2 separate regions of the Homo sapiens genome follow, and region 2 is linked to region 1. The links come from fine-mapping of genetic effects on gene expression. Tissue or cell type: left ventricle. Region 1 holds a variant in brackets; the other region holds the start of a gene. All regions are shown on one strand. Distances are from middle to middle.

The links. PIP is the estimated chance that this variant, and not a neighbour inherited with it, causes the effect.
Region 2: it holds the start of CMSS1, and the variant in region 1 is fine-mapped to the expression of CMSS1 in left ventricle (GTEx, PIP 0.99).

What each region holds. Positions count from the first base shown.
Region 1 is chr3:99,968,544-99,976,651 of GRCh38, forward strand. The region is part of intron 1 of CMSS1 (cms1 ribosomal small subunit homolog); the gene reads left to right. All of the region lies in intron 1 of FILIP1L (filamin A interacting protein 1 like), which reads right to left. The region is part of intron 1 of LOC105374010 (a long non-coding RNA gene); the gene reads left to right. Among named protein-coding and RNA genes, the nearest start is that of MIR3921, 8.2 kb to the left of the region's middle. The variant C/T (reference allele first, on the strand shown) is at 4,135.
Region 2 is chr3:99,813,188-99,821,295 of GRCh38, forward strand. It overlaps CMSS1 (cms1 ribosomal small subunit homolog), which reads left to right and starts at 4,675. Exons shown (of 10, transcript NM_032359.4): 1 at 4,675-4,856. The coding sequence starts at 4,793. HP09053 (a long non-coding RNA gene) reads right to left here. Exons shown (of 3, transcript NR_110821.1): 2 at 5,733-5,787; 3 at 3,445-5,285. It overlaps LOC105374010 (a long non-coding RNA gene), which reads left to right and starts at 4,675. Exons shown (of 5, transcript NR_189163.1): 1 at 4,675-4,856. RefSeq lists a silencer at 4,356-5,110 and enhancers at 4,526-5,400, 4,632-4,941.

The DNA of each region.
Region 1 (8,108 bases):
GGAAGTCACCCCATATCAGTGGTGTTTAAAATCAAGAGCAAATGAAATTGCACAAGGAGAATATATAGAATGAACAAATTACCATGGGTGAAGCCTTGAGTAATACAGACATTTAAGAAGCAAACAAAAGACAAGGAACCCATGAGGGAGACTGGAAAGGAAAAAACAGAGAAATAAGAAAAAATGAGAGGAGAGAATTGATACATTTTCCTCAGGTGTGGCATTATGGAGTTCACTGGTGTCTCATCAGAGAAGTTTCAGTCCAGTGGCCAGGGCAGAATGACATTGTGTCTTGTTTTAAAGTAAATGGGTAGGGTAAGAAAGTTGAGAAGGGTTAGCACAAACCTCTCTTTCAAGTCACTTGCCTTAGAAGAGAAGGAAGGGTATGGTTTCTGGGGTGCAACCCAGGTTCAAGAAGCAAAAAGAAAAAAAAATTCATTTGATAAAAGATTTAAATGGGTTTCTGGGCTTAGAGGAAAGAGTAAATAGGCACTGAGAATTTAAAGATTTAGGAAGTAAAGGGGATAATTAATGGAGCTCGGTCCTGGGAGTGCTGAAAAGGGGGGCCATGTGTGGAGGGCAGGGCAGGATCTTGACCTGGAGTAAGAATACCTCATCCTGTCATTGAAAGAAAGTGCACAAGGACAGGTCCAGGCATATCTAAGAAGGGGAGGGGAACAATATTGGGATAATGTATGTATAATTCTCTTATTGAAGTAGAAAATGATGTCATCTGCAGAGAAGGATGTAGCCTTGTTTGGGCTCTTGAGCAATATGACAGTTTGGTAACATTGCTTAGTAAAATAAGAGCAAGCTAAGCAAGAATGAGTAGGAGGTTGAGCCACGTTGATGGCCTATTTGAGATTGAGGACTGCAGATTTATATAGTTGCGTCAATCTGAAAGCTGACTTTTTTTTCCAGCTGAGCTCAACAGATTGGTCACAGAAATACAGAAGTCTACGTTTGAATTGATTCTAAAGATATTAGTGAAAGAATGGTTGAAGTAATGAGCCGTGCTATCCCAACTGGGTAAAGCAGTGAGGCCAGGAAAGAGGTCAAGGAACTATGGTTTTCCAGAGATTGGAGAGCAGAGGTAGTAAGGGCAAAGGCACGGGGAGCCTGGAAGGATCAGAGATTGTGGTCATCTTCACATAATGGATAGGAAGCAGCCCCACTAGATAATTAGTTGCAGGGTTTGACCTTGGAAATCTGTGACCATGGAGATGAAGAAGGTGAGGAATTTATAGTTTATTGGATGGCTTGTCTAGATGGATACTGAAGTCACTCATTGTCACAAAGGGTATGTTAAAGATTGTTGCCAAGTGCCCTAGTCATGAATAAGTGTTATGGAGGGACCAGGATATTAGCAGGGGGACATCAATGAGAAAAGATAATTGGATAATATGAAATTCAACAAATGAGGCTGTTACATCAGAGGCATTAGGGAGTAATGGTTTAGAAGCATTATAAAAAGGAATAATCAGTTAGGCATTGGCTTAAAATTTGGATAAGCCATATAAACTTGTTGATATTTGAGTATTTTGACATATAAAAATAGTAATTTCATATGGTTCAACCTCATACTTTGCGTGCATTAAATCATTCATTCTCACAACTACCTTCTGAAATGGGTTATCATTTTGCAGCTGAGAAAGTGAAGGCATAGAAATAATAAGTAATTTGCCCAAAGTCATCTGATAAGTTTTGGAGCTCAGTTTCAGACCCAGGCAGTCTGGCTTTAGAGGCTGCAATCACTCTGAATAGGGAATGCCCACCTTACCCTCACTGCCCTTCAGGCCTTCTGGTGTGTGAGGTGGATGAGACCAAACTCCTCTTAAGCATGTAATAACTGAGATAAATGCTGTAAAGGAAATGAATGTGGTTCACTAGTCAGTTTTGAAGTCTCATTCTCACATACTCTGTGCTTCCCCACCCTATTTGTGTTCGCTTTCACTCCCAAACTACTTCTACCTAATTGCAGAACACTTTCTCTACATTTTGCCTAACTGAAACCTAGCATATCCCTGCTTTCCTTGTAGTTTACTAGTAGATAAGTAGGAAAATAGTTCTAGACCTTGCATGTACAGGGTCACAAGAGTTTAAAAAGAGCAAGGAAAACCATTCAGTAAATGACAAGACATTCTGTATATGGGATATGAACTGGGCTGGGAGAGAGGTAGAGTACTTAAGAGAGCGTGCTACGATAGACCTCAAAGGACTTTTTACCATTCTAAAGACCTTAAACATTATACTATCTGCTACAGCCAGCCACAGAAAGATTTTAAGAAGCAAAATGTTGTGAGGATATTATAGATAAATGTTGGTGTGGATGCAATTAAAGGGAAAAAGACTAGAGGTGGGAAGATGGGTTAGGAAGCTGTTGCAGTCATTCATGTGAAGGAATAGGGCTTGGCAGTGCTCCTACCTGTGTGATTGAAGAGGAGGGGCTGTATTCACAAGATATTTAACAGCAAGGATTGGCAGGTTTTGGTGTCTCTTAAGAGAATATGGGGGCTGGGCGTGGTGGCTCACGCCTGTAATCCCAGCACTTTGGGAGGCCAAGGCGGGCGGATCACTAGGTCAGGAGATCGAGACCATCCTGGCTAACATGGTGAAACCCCGTCTCTACTAAAAATACAAAAAATAATTAGCCGGGCCTGGTGGCAGATGCCTGTAGTCCCAGCTACTCGGGAGGCTGAGGCAGGAGAATGGCGTGAACCCGGGGCGCGGAGCTTGCAGTGAGCCAAGATCGTGCCACTGCCCACCAGCCTGGGTGACAGAGCCCATCTCAAAAAAAAAAAAAAAAGAGAATATGGGATGCTGGAACCCATAAGTGAGATCACCACACAAGGAAAGAAGTCCATTTGAAAGGAGAGATGAGGAGTCCTCTTTTCTACATGTTGAATATGAGATGTCTGTAGAATCTGGGTAGAAATACTGGTATGGGACTCAGGAATGAGGTCTCACAGGAGATGCAGATGAAAATATGTTAGTATTGCTTAACCTCTCTAAGCCTCACTTCCAAAATTCCCACTTCCTCCATCAGCTTTTGTCTTGTAGCCACTCCCTGATCTAAGTTGGTACCAGAGTATAGGGACAGAGACCTGAGTGAACTGTGGCTTTAGACCTGCTTTCATCAGGACCTCACACTGTGGACTCACAGGAGTCTGTATGGTAGGGTCTAGGATACACACGGAACCTCAAACTTCTGAAAGGAGTCCTCTCCCTGCAACACCATTCCCATAAAAGAGAACAGAGTCGGTTCCTAGCTTGAATGAATGAATGAATAATGACGTTGGGGCCTCTGGATATAGATCATTCTAAAAAGCACCTATATACTCTTTTGGTAGGATTTGGTACAGGTAGGATTATGTAAACCTGGTTGCTGACCTAGATATATGTAGTCTTGTTGGGAAACATGGATTAGTCATAAAATTAGCACACTGACATGGAGTATAGTCAGCAAATGGATAAGATGGTTAAGTATCTATAATATAGTTTGACTAAGCAGTTAAGTGAATCAGTACGAATATTATTGAGAGGAACCTGGTTCTGACAGATATAAGGTAGTGATATTGCAGACATATAAAAATATAGACTGATATGCAAAGTGTGGGGAAAGATGTCATTCAAACCAGTCTTTTTATGGGCTTAATAAATTTGATAAGGGAATAGGAAGAAAGCTAGTCATCTCTTTCCCTTAGGTTGAAATAAACTTGACCCAATAGAGTACCCTAGTTTTGTTCATTTGCCGAATTGACTTAGATGCCAGGGATTTGCATGTGGAAAACTAATGCCATGGCAGGATTACTAGACTGTAAATTCATTAAGAAGTCTGATGATATCATAAACCGTGAGAAGCCTCTGTCTTGCAGCAGCATCGGAAACGTCCCCGTCCCCATTTGAGTAAGTGCTGGTAATCCATTTTATTTCTCTCCATTAGTTATTATAATAATAACAGATTGGTGACACGGCCTCATTTTCTGCCTCTAGTGCTGTCTGCTGCTGGGCACAGCTGCTCCCAGTCATTCTTTCCAGAGTAAATAACGGTTCATGTTTCCATGGGCTGTCGCGAGAGCTTTCTGTGCTTATGAAATGAGCCCATGTCACCACCCTGTTGGGAAAGATTGAAGG[C/T]ATGGGCAAAGCCAAGGAACTGCATGGGAAAGCCAGAGCTTTACCCCTACCCTAAGATATGTTTTTTGCTCTTGAAGACATTTAGATTAACTGGGTGTTAATGATGTTAACTTCCATAAGTGTGAGGCAAGAAAATTCCATCACTTGGCATCTGTCTGATGCAGGCCTTTGGCTTTGGAACTTTTTCTTTCATGTTAGATGTAAATAATGAACTCCTTTGTTGTGAGAGGGTTTGTTACAAGGAAGTAAACACATCAGCAAAGAGCATCTTTTGATCTTCACACCTTTGGCAATAAAAGCTGAGAGCAGAAATAGGCCAGAGAATTTGGGACAGAAACCACTAAAAGCTCCCCTTTTATCTGTTCACAAAATTAGGTGCAGAACTATAGGAACAATGGATGGAATGACAATTATTAAAAAAGATGAAGGGCAAAATGAGGCCACCTGAATAATAAAAGCCAAGGTTTAGATTTTATGATCTGCTTTAAAACTCAGTGAATTCTCTGAAAAACTAGGAGCATTATATAGAAACATCATAAACAAAATGAATAAAAATTTTTTTTCTCTTCTTGTGATCTCATTAGTGGATGTTAACAAATTTTAAATATTCATTTGAGAATACATGTTATAAGAACACTGATTTTCTGTGTGTGTATGCAAAATTGCAAAAACTGGTATGTTTTAATGCCTTAATTATGTGACTCTTGTCTCATGATCATTAATTCAATCCTCTTCTAAACATCAAACCACATATTCATATAAAATAGAAATCTAAAATATGCAGTTATAAATACATATGAAAATTCCTCTGTCTTTTTTTTCCTTATTTTGAAAGTTTAAGCTTTATTGCCAGGTTTTATTGGTAGAAAACTAATGTTGCTTTATTTCATGAAAGTTATCAACATCCTCCCTTCAGATCTTATAGAATTTATACTCACATCCTATAGGTAAGTAAATAGATTGAGGAGGAAAACCACTTCTGTAAGAAGAATAATAAACACACTTCAAACTTGATGAAAAATAAATGGATCTGCACTCAAAAACCTATTTAAGCTCACTTTTTTCCCCCAGTTTGGGTAGCTTTATAATGAAGGCAGAGATTGGGATGCAGGTATCATGTTAGATGTTAAATACCTCTATTCCTAGGCCTGGTGTTTGTTGTTGGTGGTGGGTGGAGGGATGGTTGCTCTAAGTTTTAGGTGTTCTTGATAGACAATATATAATTGATAAATAACTTTTCAAAGATCTTGCATTGTTTTCTGTTTTATCCCACTGTTTCCTGTAACCCACAGTTCCAAATAGCTGGCTGAATTGCTGTGTGATAAAAGGAAATCTGAGACTAAGTACCAATTCCTTCCAAGTTTAAGAACAAGAAGGTTTTCTGAATATTTTTCAGAGGCAGACTGGGGAACTATGTTTCTTTTTAATGGTCTTTTAATTTGAAAGTTAAACTAAATCCTTCTAATTGCTTGTAGGTATTGGACAATATGAGTATTTCCATTGGATAACATGGAGAGGACAATTTATCATTGAAGGACTTGTCGTTTTTATCTTAGCTGAATAGGGTGCCAGTATATACAGTTCGTGCTTTCAAGCACGGGTTGATTTATTATGGTTTGGACCTGCAGTTTTTAGAAGGGATCACAACAGGATTTTTCTTTGTAAGTTTAGTAAAGCCCATTTCTTACCTTGTTGACTGTCACTATCAGGTCAAAAAACTTAGAAAGCAGGAATAAAAACTCATTATTTGGGCTGGGCGCAGTGGCTCACGCCTGTAATCACAGCACTTTGGGAGGCCGAGGCAGGTGGATCACCTGAGGTCAGGAGTTCAAGACCAGCCTGACCAACATGGAGAAACCCCGTCTCTACTAAAAATACAAAATTAGCCGGGTGGTGGTGTGTGCCTGTAATCCCAGCTACTCGGGAGGCTGAGGCAGGAGAATCACTTGAACCCAGGAGGCGGAGGTTGTGATGAGCCAAGGTCATGCCATTGCACTCCAGCCTGAGTAACAAGAGCGAAACTCCATCTCAAAACAACAACAACAACAACAACAACAAAAACTCATGTTTGGAGTGGAAAAAACCTGTTGTTTGATGACATGTAGTTAAAATTCATTTACTTATATTCAAATAAAGATAATAATTTAGTCCTTAGGAGATGAACATTTCCATATTCTCTTTCCTACCCCTTGGCATGGGCTCTTGTGTTTGCCATACCAGGTGGATTCAGTCCAAACTCTGTAAACCTGGGCGTGTTATTTGATCTTTTTGAATGTGCAAAGCTAGAAAATAATACCATTTTCACAAGTTCATTAAGACACATTTATGACAAAAGATCAACAGTCATTAATTACAGTTAATAACTCTGAGTGACTGCTAATGTTCCAGGAACTATACTGAGCATCTTAGATTATCTAGATTAAGCCCAGTGAAGTACCTTTCACCTAGCAGGCATTCAACTTCCACCTGCTTCTGTTCCTCCCCGCTCCAATCTACCAGATTCCTCAGGTGAAAGGAATTTCTATTTGTTCACATATTACTTCATCCTTCATTCATGCATCCATTCAACAAATACATACTAAACTCCTTCTAGTTCGAGGAACTGTTGTAAGTGCTGTGGATATAGCAATGACCAGGAGAGACACAGTTCCAATGGTCAAATGTTCTAGTGCAGGAGACTGACAACAGACAGGCAGTGAATTCAAGGAGTTCAAGACCAGCTTGACCAACATGGTGAAACTCTGTCTCTGCTAAAAATACAAAAATTAGCTGAGTATGGTGGCGGGCGCCTGTAATCCCAGCTACTCGGGAGGCTGAGGCAGGAGAATTGCTTGAACCCGGGAGGCAGACGTTGCAGTGAGCCGAGGTCACACCATTGCACTCCAGCCTGCAAATGAGACTCCGTCTCAAAAAAAAAAAAAATTGATACTTCATGTGGAAATAAGTGCTATGAAAAAGAGAAACTAGGGTAAACAACAGAACTGAGAAACACAGAGGAAGAGAGCGTTCTGTTTTAGACTGGTCTAGGAAAGGGACATCTCAGCAAAGTCCTGAGTATATACTCATATCAAGGTCATTCTAATAGTGACATTCTTACTCAAATTGAAAAGTCGTGTATATGTTGAGTTGTAGAAGGAAAGTTTAGAACAATCAACAGCATCCATTATTGCATATTTTCTTTGGGCTAGCAAGCAAACAGTAATAAAATGTCTCTTTTTGTTGTTGTTGTTAGAGTCACGCTCTGTTGTCCAGGCTGGAGTGCAGTGGCACCATCTTGGCTCACTGCAACCTCCGCCTCCTGGGTTCAAGCGATTCTCCTGCCTCAGCCTCCCAAGTAGCTGGGACTACAGGCATGTGCCACTATGCCCAGCTAATTTTTGTATTTTTAGTAGAGACGAGGTTTCGCCATGTTTTCCAGGCTGGTCTCGAACTTTTGACCTCAGGTGGTTCGCCCGCCTCAGCCTCCCAAAGTACTCATAAGCCACCGCACCTGGCCCAGTGTCTCTTTTAATAGATATAAAGCACTTAGAAGGTGGAACATAGTAAGTCCATATAGTGTATGCTGCTATTAGTCTACTTGAGGAGAGTAAAAAGATACTGTGGCCCATATGCTACGCGTTCCTGCTTATAACCAAATAATTATATAGAATTCATACATAAAGAATAAAATTGGATAGGGATGTCTATTTTTATTGGATGTTGTAAGTAAGTTATTAAACTGTGTCCAAAAGAAATTCATAGATATCATGAACTTAGAAACAGTAACCCCCCAAGAGAATTGCAGCCAAACTACTACTAGTAGGACCCATGGTGGACCTGCATGTTACTTCAGTAACTGGCAGTCTAGTCCAGTGGTTTTTCTTTCACCACATTGAAGATACCACTTTATTTTCTCGTGGCTTGCATGATTTGCAGCAAGAAGTTTGCCATAATTTTTATCTTTGTTCCTCTGCATATGCATCTTTTTTTTAAAC
Region 2 (8,108 bases), 160 kb before region 1:
TGGGAGTGTATGAAGGTCATGGGGCAGATGGGAAATCACTTACTAGTAACTCAGCAAGTTACTTAATTTTCTGTGCCTTAGTTTCACCATCTATAAAATGGAAAGAAAAACAGTATAAACCTGGAGCAGATGCTTTTTATGCCCCTTAGCTCATTTTGAAATTGGCTCAGCCATGGAGGAAAGTTCTGGGCACACTGTCATTATCCCACCTCAAGTGAGCTGAGGTATACTGCTCTACTCTTCTGCCTCAGGGCTTTCTCCAACAGCAGCACAGCCTGGGAATATCTGCCAATTCATAACCCTGGCAACAACCCTCACTCAATGGTAGATGACAGTCAGTGGATAAGTGTCCTAGCCTTCTGTCCTTTTGAAGATGCTATGTTGTCTGGGGTGTATACCCTGGGGTTCATCGTTGTGCACCAGAAAAATTTAGGACCTGGGCACACACGAGGAGTTTAGGAGCGTACATTTAACAGGCAGAAGAGAAGAAAAAGAGGTCTCTTCTTTATATAGAGAAAGGGGTCTCCAAGCAGAAAAGACTGGCTGGTGGCGGAAAGTGCCGAATTTTCTAGTCCAGTTTGAGGAGGTGGTGTCTGATTTACATAGGGCTCACAGATTGGTTCGACCAGGTATGATGTTTTCATAGCACACGGGGAAGGCTGGTCACTCCACCCTAATCTTATTATGCAAATGGACTTTCCAGTTGATCAGTGCCATCTTGCCTGCTCCTTGCAGTACACGTGGCTGGCAGAGAAGGGAAAACGGAGGCGCCATTTGAACATGTCTAGTCCTTAGTTCCTGCCAGCATTCATTCGTGTAAGCTCCCAGCTTGCAGGCTGCTCTTTGTTAGAAAATTATTTGGGGCTGCTTTTCATTAAAAAGAAAAGCCTTACTGAGGACTCCCATACCCTTACTATGTGTCTAAGTAATTTCTTCTTAACTCCTGTATCACTTTGTGAGGCTAATTCTGGGGTATATCCTATTTTTTTCAGAGGGTCTTCAAGAGGATAAAGAGCCAGTCATTGTCTACATCAAAACCAGTTTAATATCAATCCTCCTTCTTTGTCTCATTCTCTCTGCCTTTATTCCTGCATCCTGGTATCACCTCCCAAATAAACTATTTGCACCCAAGCCTTTGTCACAGGCTCTGCTTTGAGGGGAACCCTAAGTAGGCAGTTGATTTTATCAGTTGGGGTCCTACCATGCAAAAGATGACCCATTTAAGCTGGAAAACTGAAAATAATTTAGTAAGGGGAGTATTTCTGAACATGAGGTCAGGTTAGGGAAATGAAACGTGGTGTAGAACCCCAGGACTAGTAATGGTGGGGAGCAGTTACCACTCCTAAGTCTGAAGAGACAAAGGCAAGTTACTAGACTCAGAAGAAAGAATTGAGGAGAGCTGCTGAACTAGAGCTGTGGCCTTCAGTAAAGGGACCAGCGTCAGGACTCAAGTGAGACAAGCATTCTCAGGTCGGTGTCAGTGTCAGCCTGAGAGTGACTGCCTCCTTAAATCTGGTATCCTAGGTCTCTGCTTGCCTCACCCTAGTCCCAGCACAGTATCTCATGGAGTTATGATTAAATGAATTAAGATATAAGAGGCATAGAGAGGTACATACAACATGCTATTGTTGATATTGTTACTACCATTATTGTCTACATGATGCAAAAGTTTGAATGCATTATGATGGTTCCTGAAGTACACTTATAGGCTGGGCTTATTGACTAAGAACCTCTGCACTGATTAAGACCTTTTCATTGTGTGGTGAGCATTCACGAAACAGCCTTCAAACTTTATCGCTCTCTTACTAATTCAGTTTTTGCCAACCTTTCACATCATGGCATCCATAGAAAATGGTAATATCTGTACAACACTAGAGTGAAAAGATGATGATACCCTCAACCTGAGGCAACTGCCCCAAGGTCACTGCTTCCTCCAAAGACTGCAGGGGTCAGTCTTCAGCCCACCCATGCCAGGTGGGAAGCTCTGCTCAAATCCATTATTCATCCTGCACAGTAATACCAATTTAGCTTTCCTAAAACAATACTTCCATCATGTCCTTTGCCTCTAATAACAACGACAAAAATCCAGAATTCTTGGTCTGATACTCAAGATTAAGGCATGGAGTTGGAAGAGACCACAGGAATCATGAAATTGCTCCCCTTTATTTTACAGACTCACAAAGAAATGCCCAGCAAAGTTTAATAACTTATTCAAAGCAACATTGCAATCTTTCTGCCAAGGAACTATCATTTACCCTATCCATTTTTGCCGACAGACATCCATTGTCAAGTGCTACCTCCCAGTTCGCCCCATTGGGAAATGAATGCTTCCTCCTTTAAACTCTAATAATACTCATTCAGATACTGAACAGTAAGAGGGAGCAGAAAAAGACCTAATAGTTATTTCAGCCTGAGCTTCCCTGTGTTAGATGATATGATCAGATACTGGAGAGTACGGTTTTACAATACACTGATTTATAAACCAGGATGCCTATTCACTAATAACCAATTCACTAATAACAGAACAAACAGAACAGAAATGGATGCTACAACTTAGGTTGGCTATTCAATATAATCTGGGGTCAGTAAACTTTTTTCTGTAAAGTTAGAGCAAATATATGAGGGAATAGTAATAAATAGTAAATATATGAGGGCTACAGTCTCTGCTGCATATTTTTCTTTACGTTTTTGTTGTTGTCGTTGTTGTTTTGTTCTGTTTCTTACAATGCTTTAAAAATGTAAAAAATGGCTGGACACAGTGGCTTAGGCCTCTAATACCAACACTTTGGCAGGCTGGAGTGGGAGGACTGCTTGAAGCCAGGTGTTAAAGACCAGCCTGGGCAGCAAAATGAGACGCCATATCTACAAAAAACAAAAACAACAACAAAATAACCAAGAATGGTGGCATGTGCCTGTAGTCCCAGCTACTCGGGAGGCTGAGGCGAGGTGGAATATAATGTAAGACCATTCATAGTTCATGGTACAAAACAGGTATCAATTCCCATTAATGCATAGACACTCCATAATTTAGTATTGCCAGACTTCTTTTTTTTTTTTTTTTTTTTTTTTTTGAGACCGAGTTTCGCTTTTGTCAACCAGGCTGGAGTGTAATGGCACCATCTCGGCTCACCGCAACCTCCACTTCCCGGGTTTAAGCAATTCGCCTACCTCAGACTCTCAAGTAGCTGGAATTACAGGCGCCTGCCACCATGCCCGGCTAATTTTTGTATTTTTAGTAGAGATGGGTTTCGCCATTTTGGCCAGGCTGGTCTGGAATTCTTGACCTCAGGTGATTCACCCACCTCGGCCTCCCAAAGCGTTGGGATTACAGGCTTGAGCCACCGCGCCCGGCCCATACTTCTTAATTTTGTGATTTATTGCCTGAAAAACGGTCTCGCTGTGGTGTTTTTTTTGTATTTCCCAGATTAATAATCAGACTGAATTCTTTTCATGTTTATTAGCCATAGCAACTCCTCTTCCACACTGGCATTTCTTATCTTTTTCAAAAATCTATTAATCACGAAAATCTCGTCATCTACATTTCTTCACAAAAGCCATATTACTTTTGATCTTTATAGATTATTTTACATTTGCCATATTTATACATAATATCTTCCCTTTTGGGGCATTTAGAGTGTGCGGACAAAGTCTAGGCAGTAATGCATTTATAAAACATCTATGAGTTGGGTGCACACGGGGTAATTTTCCACATATGGCTAATCCTAGCCTCATCAGATTAAGTTTCCCTGTCTTGTCATTTCCGAGGATGTATCCTATTAGAAGTCTAGCCCTTTATTCCTACAAATTGAATTTCCACTACTGTAGGCTAACATCTGAATGGACTCATCTTACTATTCCATGCATAGTACCAGGCACGTTGCGTGCTTTTACTACATTTTGTATAATTTTTACGTCTGTGTTTGATGTCCTGAAAAATACCGTCCACAATTACTTCACAGCTAGCCCCAGCACTTGGCGCCCAGCGGGTTTTCCTAGTCCCTCCCTGCCAAATCACGTTGGGACTGAGACAAGAGGCACTGCGGGTCTCTTACCTATAGTTACGAAGCAATGGACTCCCTTATTACTTCGTTTCCCAAATAGGGGGTGGGACACACAACCGAGGGAGTATGAGGAAAACAACTTGCGGGTCTTCGAGCCACTTGCGTCTTTCTGTGGGCGAGCCTTTCCAGGCCAATTACATTTTCTTTACTCATATTGCATAAATAGCAGAACTACATTTACCACAAAGGCCCGACATTCATGGTCATGGATCCTTGCGCATGTTTTCTAAGAGCAAACTGTACAAACACATAAACTCTGAAACACTGACGCACAAGCGAAAACACACGCACATGTTTGGGTCTTCTCCCGCTGCGCAAGTTCTTTGAAACTGAGCGGAGAAAAATCGTCTTCACATGGTGTCTCACACTTTCGACACAATCTTATCGGGAAACGTAACACGTAAACAAAATTTTTTAAAATGCATTATCAAAAACGATGACAATCCCTTTCGTCTTATGTTCCTTTTTGTCTTTAAGCTTTGGGGGGATTTATGTTGCGTTTCCAAACTGCTTCTGCCTGTCGGCGCCTGTGTGGAAACTGCGACGAGTCTGGGAGCGGCTGCCGGAGAGGCGGGGCAGAGGTGTGACGTCATCGCCGCGGGGCGGAGGCGACAGTGTCTAGCGGGAGCTCCGCGTGTAGCTACGCCGGCCGCCTGGCTTTGAGACAACGTGATTCTCCGCAGCTGGTCGCCTACCCGTGATGTTCTGCCCACGTCGAGACCTGAGCTGAAATGGCAGACGATCTCGGAGACGAGTGGTGGGAGAACCAGCCGACTGGAGCAGGCAGCAGCCCAGGTACCCACTCTGTGCCCGCGCTCCTACGGGGCCTCTCCCGGAGCCCTTCCGTGCGCCTCAGCCCTGGTCGCTTCTGGCGATCGCGGTGTTTGCCCAGCAGGGGTGTGCACCGCCTTGGGAGCGCGCAAGCATCTCGGGGAAAATGGTGCAAGAGATTCTTTAACACGTGAAACAGACAGCTGTGACATTAACTCAGATCTGTCTGCCAGCCAGGAAGGATCCTTTCCACAAGCTTTCTCTTTTCCTTATTTCTTGAGAATGGATAAGACAGTTTTTGTGAAGAGAGGCAACTTTGTATGATGGTTAAGGGTGACCCATGAACTGCTTTCAATTCAGACTGAGGTCAGAAGCAGGGGTTGCTGCTTCAGACTCCCTCCATTCAAATCACGACTCCAGTATTCTGATACTGTTTAGCCTCCTTTTCCTCATCTGTAAAATAATGATAACAATAATGTCCATTTCGTAAAGTTGTGAAGATTAAGTGAAGTTAGTACAGTAATGCACTTTAGCATAGTGCTTGACATATAATGTGTGGTAAATATAAGTTACTGTATTTCTTGTGGTCATCATCATTATCATGGAATTTGGAATAGTAGAACTGGAAGGAGGCTTAAATAGAGATCATCCTTTGAACTCACTTATTTTACAGATGAGAAACATAACCTAAAGATGTCAAGTAACTTGACAAGTTCACAAAGCTAGCTCCTTTCAGAAACAATACTAGAATTCAGTTAACACAATTTGAATAGTTTCTACTATGCTCTGCTGTGTTTACCAACTCCTGATGCAGTGGGCATTTCATCCCCAAGTAGAGTAGCGTTAAGTGACCCCCCATGTCAGGCTAGCCTTGAACTTTTTAAGTTCCATCACACCTACCATGCAATTATTGGTTGGTTGGTTTTTATCACTCCTCAAGGTCTGCCTCTTTTCTCTACAAGAGAAGACAGGGCCAAAGTCAGATTCATACTTCTGTCATCCACAGGGCCCTGCACATGTTAGACACTTGATACCTATTTGCTGCAAACAATCTTGAAATACTAGTTGTGAAATATCCATTAAAAATAACCAACTTCATTTGTTGCATTGTTTCCGGAAGGTCAAGCCTTCAGGTACAAACTAAGCAGATGTCATTTTTAGAAAGGTAGCCAATACAACATTTCCTTGATTAAACTTCCTGACTCTTTTGCAGCCCTGTGGTGTTCCACATTTACTTTAATAACTACCCCTCCCAACTCAGGTGTTAAAAAGCTCTATTTTATGATATGATTGAAGATGAACAGAGGCCATTTAAGAAATAGTTGAATTCTGTTTGAGTGGTGAAGGGGATCCCAATTCTTGGTTCTAGTCCTCACTAGCTGTGTGACTTTCAAGTTATTCATCCGTTGGAAGAAAGGCAGTCAACATGTATTGAGTATCTATTATGTGACAAATGTCTTCATAAATATGAATTGATTTAACTTTCATAACATCCCGAAAAGGTAAGTATTCTCTTCATTTGTATAGGTGAAGAAACAGAAAAAAGTTAAGTCGTGTTCTTAGGAACACACATTGAAGAAGAGGTCTGGGAAGAGTTTAGTCAAGTGTGATTGATTTTGAAAGTCACGCTTTTCCCGCTACTACTTTGTGACTTCTCTGGGCCTTTGTATCATAATCTGTAAAGAGCCCTTAAAGATCATCTTTTTTAGGGTTTTACCAACCAACAGTTTTTTTTTTCTTTTTTTTTTTTTTTGACACGGAGTCTCCCTCTGTCGCCCAGGCTGGAGTGCAGTGGCACGATCTCGGCTCACTGCAACCTCTGCCTCCTGGGTTCAAGCGATTCTCCTGCCTCAGCCTCCCAAGTAACTGGGATTACAGGTGCCCGCCACCACACCCAGCTAATTTTTGTATTTTTAGTAGAGACGGGGTTTCACCATGTTGGCCAGGCTGGTCTTGATCTCTTGACCTCGTGATCTGCCCACCTCGGCCTCCCAAAGTGCTGGGATTACAGGCGTGAGCCACCGTGCCTGGCCCCCAACAGTTTTAAACACTGAATCTAGTAAAACTTTAAATCGCTACAGCCTCCTTCATCTAAGTTGCCAGAATTCTCATGAAGACAGTGTGTTGGAGTGCCTAAGATTGCTCTACTTCTTACATTCCTTCTAGCCATAAGACTAACCCTTTTTTTTTTTTTGAGACGAAGTCTCACTCTTGTCCCCCAGTCTGGAGTACAGTGGTGCGATCTCAGTTCACTGCAACCTCCACCTCCTGGGTTCAAGCGATTCTCCTGCCTCAGCCTCCCGAGTAGTTGGGATTACAGGAGCCTGCCACCACCCCCAGCTAATTTTTGTATTTTTAGTAGAGATGGGGTTTCACCATGTTGGCCAGGCTGGTCTTGAGCTCCTGACCTGAAGTGATCTGCTCGCCTTGGCCTCCCAAAGTGCTGGGATTACAGGTGTGAATCACCGCACCCGGCCAAGACTAAGCTTTGAAAATTGCTGGCATTAAATTTATCAGAGGCCTTTGCTTTGTTCGCTGCTCTTAAGCAAAGTAAGTATATGCCTTTATTTGAAATATCCTTGATTATTCACTGGCAATTTGCCTAATTGTAATCTGTACAGCGTTTCTAATTCAAAAGAAATCACAGCTGAACCACAGATTTCCTGATTCTTCTTTTGTTGATGGGATCTAGCCTTGATCCTAGAGCACAAGGCTTACTTACCTGGCTGCCTTCTTGAAGTCTTTACTTAAGTTATTTGATAGGGATGTCAAATGTATTCAATTGTTGTTTCAGCCTAAAGTATGTGAATTATGTTTTGTTTTGAAAGTTGAAGGAGAAATAATATGTTAAATCAGAGAAAGGAAAGATAGTTGTATTGGTGCTTTTATTCCTGTTGTGGATTATGCTACCTGCCTATAAAAATAAACATTTTTGCTATAATCTGTTCCCACTTGACATCCATGGTAGCAAGGCAGTGGAAGATTTCAGTCACTTACAAATACTTGTTGGTTGTACATGGTTTATAACATCTATCTAATGTGCCTATCTGTTTGTTGTCTGTCTAAGGAACTGTACTATTTTTTGGCTGTTATCATGTCTTCTTAGATGTGGTATGTAACAAAGTTTTCATGGCTCTTTAAAACCTGTCATTTTTGTGCTAGAGTTCTACATTGCACTGGAGCTCAACATGGGACCTGGCACTTAATTGGTGTTTGGTGGATGTTGGCAGAATAAATATATGTGTGTATGCGTGTTACCTGCTACAGAGTATGTAG